3 separate regions of the Homo sapiens genome follow, and all the other regions are reported to be linked to region 1. Evidence: microRNA targets listed by miRTarBase, many of them from high-throughput screens and not tested one by one. Region 1 holds a microRNA gene; each other region holds the end of a gene's coding sequence.

Region 1 (3,265 bases):
TCAGTTGAGCACATAATAGGTTTAAAATATAGTACTGACATAGCACATTGTCTATGATTAAGGAGGGTGATATAGAAAAATGCTTTTCAGTTTTCATCCTAGAACTCCAGGAATATATTTCTCCTCCATCTGTTGGCTCTTGTAGTGGGGAAGGGGATGAATTCTGGGAATGGCAAAGTGGTCTTTGGTGGAAAGAAGTAAGAAGAAACAGAGGAAATTACTTCTGGGTACCAGTGATGGTTTGACCCACCACATTACAACTGCTGAAAGAACAATATCTTCTTAGGTGCCCTGAATAAGGGAACAAGTAAGTTCCCTCCATTAGAACAACTTTATGTCCAAATAAGAAGTGTCTAAGGAGTACCCTAAAGAGATGCACCTTAAAGTTGAAGACTATGTATATAAATCTTCAGTTACTAATTGGGACTGATACTAAAAATAACTATTGCAGGTGCCAATACCTCCCAACACAAGTAGTTTCGGTACTGAGACTATCTCTGAGGACTTAAACACCAACTTTATCACATTTACATACGTAATAATCACCCTGTCCATTCTCACACATCTCTACTTGCTGGAGACTATTTTTCTTTATATCTAAAATGCTTTAGCACCTTTTCCTATAAAAGGCATATTTTTAGAACTCCACATTTTTTTTAAAGTAAAGTTTTATTTTCCTACAGTCCAACCGTGTGTGTTTAGGAAGGTACATGGGCCTAGAAATTCTGAGAAAATTATAGTAGTTGTTCTTTGCTGGGGTGCTCTCTTTCACTGATCCCTTTTCTTTCTTTCTCAATAACTCTCTTCATTTACATATTATTGCTTTAAAGGACCTTCAAAATATTCCCTCCTGACTATAAACTAGAAGCTAAATATCTGGTCACTCTGAGGCAGGAAAGCAAAAGAAATAATTAACTGTTAACATTTTATCCATGCAATAACAACAACAATAAAATACCTTGTTTGTGGATTAAAAGGCAAAGTCAATCCTAGAGGTTGCCAATACTAGTTACAAGGTATAATTTGACAGATAACACCAGGTCCAGACTGTAAGAAAAATACAGTCCAGATTCCAGAAAACATGGCCACCCTCTGGGGCCTGAGACATATAGCAGGGAAAGATTCTGTCCCTGACCTCTCCCCACCTAGCCCACCAAGGAATGGGGAGCTGTGGAAGGCAGAGTCAGGGCTGTAAGCTGGGCCTAGGGGAGCCAGGACTAGCACTTAGAATGGGACACAAAGAAGATGGTGCAGAGAGCAAGGGGACTAGAGGCCAGAGGTTGGCCCAGAGCTGCTTCCTGAGACAAACCAGAGGGAACAATAGACAGCAAAGATAGCTGAGCAATTAGGAGACCAAAATGAGGCGTGCGCTATGCAGACACGGAGCTCTGAAGACTGGAGGAAGGCTTCCTCCTTTTCCCACTGAGCAGGCCCCGGATATAGCCAGCGGGTATTCATATTGCTGCTCGGAAGCAACCCATCTCTCCTGGAATTTGATAACATAATCTCCACTCCTCTGGTCACCCTCTCCCTTCCCTCATTTCCCTCTCTCTATTGGAAATGGCAAAACAATGAAGGGGAACATGTAGCCACAACATAAAAATGTGGACAAAAATATTTTAAAAGTGAAGAAGATAGACTTAAATATACAGATGTGGATACATAGACTGCCCAGTGACCCCATCTCGGCAGAAATTCATTCTTGCATGGAATTCCTGAAGCCAAAGAAACAAGCAGTTGGTGAGACAGCATCCCCATGGAACAGAATAAGGCTGCCTGCTGCAAGGTTTGGCAATTCAAGAGGTATGGGGGGAAATGTACCCACAGCAATGTTCTCTCTCAAAAGATGTAACTTTGCAGTGTTGCTGTTTTTCCTGTTTTCTGTATTCTATGTTTGGCTGGCAGTGGGAGGGAGTGGGTGTCAGAGAGAGAAGACTGGGCTTTGGAGAGACAAGACAGTTGGCTTGAAAATACTGCTGAAAACTGTGGGGCTTGTGGATTTATTTTTCTCTCCTGTTCCATTCCTAACGGAGGAAAAGAGGAAAAGGCTGTTCCTGACGTGGAAAGGTGGGTCAGATGGTGAGGTGACCAAATCAGAGGGTTTGGCCACACTTCTGCTTCTATCCCTGTTAGCATAGTGCTCTTTCAAGTCCTTTCACCCTGTTTTGGTCACATATATCTCTGTTGCCTGAGGTTATGCCTATATACATCTGTAGGAAGCCCACAGCCTCTGATATAAGAGCAAAGGTACCTGACCCTCTTAAAGACGATGCTCCTGCTCCCTTTCCACCTTCCCAGACTCTGGACTCTTTTTACCTTAGACCATTCATGCTGCTATAACAAATGCTTTACAATGGGTGGCTTATACATAACAGAAGTTTATTTCTTACAGTTCTAGAGGCTGAGAAGTCCAAGATCAAGGTACCCACAGATTCAGTATCTGGTGAGGGCTTCAATTCCTGGTTCACAGATGATCTTCTCACTGTGTCTTTATATGGTAGAAGGAACTAGCTAGCTTTCTAGAACCTCTTTAAAAGGGCACTGATCACCTCCCAAAGTTCCTGCCTCATAATACAACCACATTGGGAATTAGGTTTCAATATATACATTTGGAGGAAACACAGACATTCAGACCATACTGCTACTTGCCCTGGGTTTTACCTTAGTTAACCTCCCTGGGCTTGGTCCACAGATTATGTGGAACAGAGTTTCTCAACAGTAACACCATTCACATTTTGCACTGGATAATTCTTTGCTTGTGGGGCTCTTGTGGGTTGAATTCTGTCCCTGCAAAAAGATATGCTGTAGCTCTAACCCCAGTACCTTAGAATGTGACCTTATTTGGAAATAACGTTGTTGCAGATATAATTAGTTAAGATGAGATCATACCGAAATAAGGTAGGCCCATAGTGTGGTATGACTGGTGTTCATTCATATAGAAAGATGTCCAAATGAAGATACAGACATACAGGGAGAGCAACATGAAAGCTGAGGTTGGAGTGGTGCAGCCACATGCCAGGAAACAGCAAAGCCACTAGCAAGTCACTGGAAGCTAAGAGAGAGGCCTGGAACAGATTCTCCCTCACAGCCCTCAGAAGGAACAACCCTGCTAACACTGCAATCTCAGACTTCTAGCCTCCAGAACTGTGAGACGATAAATTTCTGCTGTTTTAATCTGTGCGGATTGTGGTACTTTGTTACAGTAGCCACGGGAAACAAACACGGGCTGTCCTGTGCACTGTAGAATGCTTAGCAGCATCCCTGG
Region 2 (3,265 bases), not on the chromosome of region 1:
GCTTGAACCAGGAGGCAGAAGTTGCAGTGAGCCAAGATCATGTCACTGCACTCCAGTCTGGGTGACAGAGTGAGACTCTGTCTCAAAAGATAAAAAAATTACTTAGGCAGTATGTTTCCTTTTAGGTTGCAAGGACTTTATTGATTTCATTGTTAAGCTAGCCTTACAAAGTATATACATACACACACATATAAATTAGTTAAACCAAACTAATTTTTTCTATTCTTATTAATCTCAGAATAATTACTGAAAGATGAATCTAGGTTTTTTGTTTAGGCTTCTGTTAGAACACTGTCAACAAATTTCTCTATAAATGGTGATAATTAGAAAAATTATAATTTGGATGGACTGATAAAAAATATGTGTATATATCTTTCAGGATGTTGCTGGAGCACTGTCAGTAGAAGAAATCACTGAACTACTCAGTCTCCATAAATTATGCTGTGGCCGTAGCTGGTATATTCAGGGCTGTGATGCTCGAAGTGGTATGGGACTGTATGAAGGGTTGGACTGGCTCTCACGGCAACTTGTAGCTGCTGGAGTATTGGATGTTGCTTGATTTTAAAGGCAGCAGTTGTTTGAAGTTTTGTGGTTAAAAGTAACTTTGCACATAGTATGTTTTAAGAAATTATACATCTCAAAAGATGGTAATTTAGGATGCATATATATATATATATATATAAAGGAATCTTGGATTGGGAATTCAGTACTTTGCTTTAAAAAAATTTTGTGGCAGAATTAAATTTCTAATTGAGCAGATTAGATTGAATTAAATAGAAACTTATTGAATATACATTCTTTTAAAAAGTATATTTGTTATTTAAGTTTTTCAGATAATATGTGACCAATATACTGGGAAAGAGGTAGTCACAGAGAAAGGGTAAGTGAAGGTTTATTCTTTCAGTGAAAAAAGAATAGCCAATTGAGTGCCTAATGAGACCTCTGTGTGAAGCAAGTGAAGTATAGCTGCTTCTTTTAACCTGCCTTTTCACTGAATGTTGGCAGCATTTAGTAGTAGAAATGACAGTTGCTTAATGAAATAGAATCCAAACTACATATTTGGATAATAGGATTACTTTATGTTTATGTTCAGAGTTAACAGAACACCTTTAATGCTAAGAACTATAAGGTACAGAAAATTAATACTTTATATAGTGTTTTATTAACTTTCTCCTACAGCATTTTGTATAAAACACAATGAGGGAGTGAAATGTTACCCAATTAGGCTTGTCAGGTTAGTAATAAACTGAACAGTAATAAAACTGTGGAAGTAATTGGATCTGAATTTATGAAAGACCCATTTCCAGGACTGAACCTAGGTCAGAGCTCTAAATTGGTCCTTCTATTTTTCAACAAATTTAAAGTAATATTTCTTTCTAATATAATATTGCATCCTTTGTGGGAATGACTATAGGTAAAATGTAGTAAGTAACGCAGAACCAGGGTTGGCTTTATTTAAAAGCTAGTGACCTAAATAGAAAGCGAACTTCAAGAGAAGTTGTAAGTACAGTGGCAAATGCTTATTACTTACTTCAAACTGTTTCCCAAAATAAGTGCATTTATTTTGACAATAAAACTTAAGGCTGTTCATGAGAAGGCCTTGAAAAGTTACTCTAGAGGAAAAATGTCTAAAGAAAAAAAAAATTCAAAAAGTTTACATTAATTATTCAGTGTTGTGAGTAAATAAAAATGTGTGCTCTTTACTGTTTTTCATTTTTAAAGAATATTATTATGGAAGCACGATTTATTTAAATAGGTACATTGAGACTTTTTTTTTTTTAATGTTCTGATACATTAGGATGAAGTTAAATCTTAAATCTTATTAGTTGAATTGTTGTAAGGACAGTGATGTCTGGTAACAAGATGTGACTTTTTGGTAGCACTGTTGTGGTTCATTCTTTTCAAATCTATTTTTGTTTAAAAACAATACAAGTTTTAGAAAACAAAGCATTAAAAAAAAAGCCTATCAGTATTATGGGCAATATGTAAATAAATAAATGTAATATTTCATCCTTTATTTTTCAGGTAAAAGGTCATGCTGTTACAGGTGTAGTTTGTGTGCATAAATAATACTTCCGAATTAAATTATTTAATATTTGACTGATTTCAATAACTGTGAAAAATAAAAAAGGTGTTGTATTGCTTGTGAGAACTTGAACTGTTTACTAGTTAATTGAAGAAAAAGTGTAACACTAAGGTGAACTTGCTTCCCTTTTCACTAATTTTGCTAAACTTTGTAATGCACATTCTTAGCATATAACTGAACACAGTTGAAAAATTGTGCCTGATTATAATGTATGTATAATGGTAGGTGTTTGTGTGTGATTCATTTTTAAAGAAATATTTTTCTCAAGCTCCTATTACTATTTGTGGTTGTATTATTTCACTAATCATTAGTTAAGACTGTGCTAGTCTTCCCTGGGAAACTAAGAAGAGAGCTTTTTTATATACAGTATATTAGAATTTTCCTAGTAGCTGAATTTCTGTATTAGGTCTAAATATTACTGTATGTTATATAAAGCAGGTATGTCAAGTGTATAGCCGTAGTCTATAATTCAGGAATGCTTTATAACCATCAGAAGCCATTATTTGCACTACATATATGATAAGTATAGACAGCAATAAAATGTTAAGATCATTTTTAAGAAGTCCCATCATTATTCTTGAAAGTCTCTTTCTTGAACCATCTACCTAATATTATTGCTAGTTGTAACCAATTTAAGAAGTCATTATTTGTGCTGTGGTTAGGAGAGAAAATAAAACAAAATGGGTATGGGTTGGCATGCCTGTCAAATTTGAGATGTAGTTTATTTGATACAGCAAAATTTTAGAAATAACGTTTTGAATTTGCAACATAGGCCACATTTACTGATGAGAACAGATACTAAACTTGATCTTAACTACACCTGATCTTAGCCAAAAGGCCGAGAAGTAATGTGCAGGCCACATTTAAATAAGTAATATAACCATAGTGTTTTGAAGGCGGAGCTAAAGTTTTACATTGAACGAAGTGAAACTTTGTTACTGCCTTTTAAATTTTAAATGTAAACTTGTTTCATAAGAAAACATAGTATTTTAAATGACCATTTTAGAAAATGGCTTGCAAAACTTAGTGGTAGCTCATGAACTAATACTGCTAAGAGAAAGGCTTTTTATGTAACACTGGGATACTTCTCAATTGGCAAAGTGCTAACAAAGAAGAAGACAGCTGTATTCTTCCCTAAAAGAATAAAGGATGAAAAGGACTAATGAATAAGGATGAAAT
Region 3 (3,232 bases), not on the chromosome of region 1:
CCACTGCACTCCAGCCTGGTGACAGAGCGAGACTCCATCTCAAAAAAAAAGTATTATTTCTTGTAATTTCTCTTCACCTTCTGTGGATAACCAAAACTTTCCTGTATCTGAAGGTTATTTGAAGGCAACTCTGTGGTGTACTTAACCTGCTTATATAGTGGTTACAAAAAAAGTAAATTTGTATATTGAGATGTTTTTGTATCTTGAAGCTAAGTGATGCTGCTATCTTTTTAAGAATGCTTTCCAACTAAAACATTCAGGTATCTTGGCACTTATATGAAAACGCCCCCCCCCCCCCATCCCACTGAAACTTGCTGAAAAATCTTTCCTTCTTTTACCAGTTGTGGACATCGGATACCCAAGGAGACGAAGCTGAAGCAGGAGAAGGAGGGGAAAATTAACCGGCCTTCCAACTTTTGTCTGCCTCATTCTAAAATTTACACAGTAGACCATTTGTCATCCATGCTGTCCCACAAATAGTTTTTTGTTTACGATTTATGACAGGTTTATGTTACTTCTATTTGAATTTCTATATTTCCCATGTGGTTTTTATGTTTAATATTAGGGGAGTAGAGCCAGTTAACATTTAGGGAGTTATCTGTTTTCATCTTGAGGTGGCCAATATGGGGATGTGGAATTTTTATACAAGTTATAAGTGTTTGGCATAGTACTTTTGGTACATTGTGGCTTCAAAAGGGCCAGTGTAAAACTGCTTCCATGTCTAAGCAAAGAAAACTGCCTACATACTGGTTTGTCCTGGCGGGGAATAAAAGGGATCATTGGTTCCAGTCACAGGTGTAGTAATTGTGGGTACTTTAAGGTTTGGAGCACTTACAAGGCTGTGGTAGAATCATACCCCATGGATACCACATATTAAACCATGTATATCTGTGGAATACTCAATGTGTACACCTTTGACTACAGCTGCAGAAGTGTTCCTTTAGACAAAGTTGTGACCCATTTTACTCTGGATAAGGGCAGAAACGGTTCACATTCCATTATTTGTAAAGTTACCTGCTGTTAGCTTTCATTATTTTTGCTACACTCATTTTATTTGTATTTAAATGTTTTAGGCAACCTAAGAACAAATGTAAAAGTAAAGATGCAGGAAAAATGAATTGCTTGGTATTCATTACTTCATGTATATCAAGCACAGCAGTAAAACAAAAACCCATGTATTTAACTTTTTTTTAGGATTTTTGCTTTTGTGATTTTTTTTTTTTTGATACTTGCCTAACATGCATGTGCTGTAAAAATAGTTAACAGGGAAATAACTTGAGATGATGGCTAGCTTTGTTTAATGTCTTATGAAATTTTCATGAACAATCCAAGCATAATTGTTAAGAACACGTGTATTAAATTCATGTAAGTGGAATAAAAGTTTTATGAATGGACTTTTCAACTACTTTCTCTACAGCTTTTCATGTAAATTAGTCTTGGTTCTGAAACTTCTCTAAAGGAAATTGTACATTTTTTGAAATTTATTCCTTATTCCCTCTTGGCAGCTAATGGGCTCTTACCAAGTTTAAACACAAAATTTATCATAACAAAAATACTACTAATATAACTACTGTTTCCATGTCCCATGATCCCCTCTCTTCCTCCCCACCCTGAAAAAAATGAGTTCCTATTTTTTCTGGGAGAGGGGGGGATTGATTAGAAAAAAATGTAGTGTGTTCCATTTAAAATTTTGGCATATGGCATTTTCTAACTTAGGAAGCCACAATGTTCTTGGCCCATCATGACATTGGGTAGCATTAACTGTAAGTTTTGTGCTTCCAAATCACTTTTTGGTTTTTAAGAATTTCTTGATACTCTTATAGCCTGCCTTCAATTTTGATCCTTTATTCTTTCTATTTGTCAGGTGCACAAGATTACCTTCCTGTTTTAGCCTTCTGTCTTGTCACCAACCATTCTTACTTGGTGGCCATGTACTTGGAAAAAGGCCGCATGATCTTTCTGGCTCCACTCAGTGTCTAAGGCACCCTGCTTCCTTTGCTTGCATCCCACAGACTATTTCCCTCATCCTATTTACTGCAGCAAATCTCTCCTTAGTTGATGAGACTGTGTTTATCTCCCTTTAAAACCCTACCTATCCTGAATGGTCTGTCATTGTCTGCCTTTAAAATCCTTCCTCTTTCTTCCTCCTCTATTCTCTAAATAATGATGGGGCTAAGTTATACCCAAAGCTCACTTTACAAAATATTTCCTCAGTACTTTGCAGAAAACACCAAACAAAAATGCCATTTTAAAAAAGGTGTATTTTTTCTTTTAGAATGTAAGCTCCTCAAGAGCAGGGACAATGTTTTCTGTATGTTCTATTGTGCCTAGTACACTGTAAATGCTCAATAAATATTGATGATGGGAGGCAGTGAGTCTTGATGATAAGGGTGAGAAACTGAAATCCCAAACACTGTTTTGTTGCTTGTTTTATTATGACCTCAGATTAAATTGGGAAATATTGGCCCTTTTGAATAATTGTCCCAAATATTACATTCAAATAAAAGTGCAATGGAGACCTTGGGGTCTTTATTTCCAGGAGAAAAGATACCTTCTGCATCTAGGGCAACAATCCTTTTCCCTCGCAGCTCTTTCTTTTACCTCACTTACTGATTTCTCCTGACCCCCAAGCCAAGGAGGTAAAATAATTATATATATATATATATATATATATATATATATATAAAGTAATTATATTTTATAGCTAGACTGAAGAGGTGGGAATTTTTTTGTTGTTTTTTTTTTTTTTGGAGACAAGAGTCTTGCTCTGTCACCCAGGCTTGAGTGCAGTGGTGCGATCTCGGCTGAGTGCAACCTCCGCCTGCTGGGTTCAAGCGATTCTCCTGCCTCAGCCTCCCAAGTAGCTGGGATTACAGGTGCCCGCCACCACACCTGGCTAATTTTTGTGTTTTTAGTAGAGACAGGGTTTCACCATGTTGTCCAGGCTGGTCTTGAATTCCCGACCTCAGGCAATCCGCCCATCTCAACCTCCCAAAGTGCTGGGATTACAGGCATAAGCCACCGCGCCCAGTAGAGATGTGATATTATTCAAGTAAATAAAACCTGAAACTTGGCACATTTGCCTATTTAATGTGCATCAGTCATCTGAACTAGGTTGATCCTGGAATAATGAAAACACTTCACTAGTATTAACTAATGTTTTCTACATAGTAGTTCCCAATAGATTAAGGAAAATTTCCAACCTGAGATTCTTTGTTTTGGAATTTGAATA

Evidence for each region. Region 1 holds the annotated microRNA hsa-miR-6083 (CUUAUAUCAGAGGCUGUGGG, at 2,221-2,240, opposite strand). A microRNA usually pairs through its seed, bases 2 to 8, with sites in the 3' UTR of a target mRNA and lowers its output. Matches are read on the target gene's strand: a 7mer-m8 pairs with bases 2 to 8, a 7mer-A1 pairs with bases 2 to 7 and ends in A, and an 8mer does both.
Region 2: miRTarBase lists TRIM23 as a target of hsa-miR-6083. Seed matches in the 3' UTR shown: 7mer-A1 at 678-684 and 7mer-A1 at 2,514-2,520.
Region 3: miRTarBase lists YWHAZ as a target of hsa-miR-6083. Seed matches in the 3' UTR shown: 7mer-A1 at 2,681-2,687.

The regions. Positions count from the first base shown.
Region 1 is chr3:124,373,383-124,376,647 of GRCh38, reverse strand. MIR6083 (microRNA 6083) reads right to left here and starts at 2,316; the gene lies at 2,211-2,316. All of the region lies in intron 10 of KALRN (kalirin RhoGEF kinase), which reads right to left.
Region 2 is chr5:65,589,063-65,592,327 of GRCh38, reverse strand. TRIM23 (tripartite motif containing 23) reads left to right here. Exons shown (of 11, transcript NM_001656.4): 11 at 380-2,638. The coding sequence ends at 559. Among named protein-coding and RNA genes, the nearest start is that of PPWD1, 27 kb to the right of the region's middle.
Region 3 is chr8:100,917,862-100,921,093 of GRCh38, reverse strand. YWHAZ (tyrosine 3-monooxygenase/tryptophan 5-monooxygenase activation protein zeta) reads left to right here. Exons shown (of 6, transcript NM_145690.3): 6 at 342-3,232. The coding sequence ends at 401. Among named protein-coding and RNA genes, the nearest start is that of YWHAZ, 33 kb to the left of the region's middle.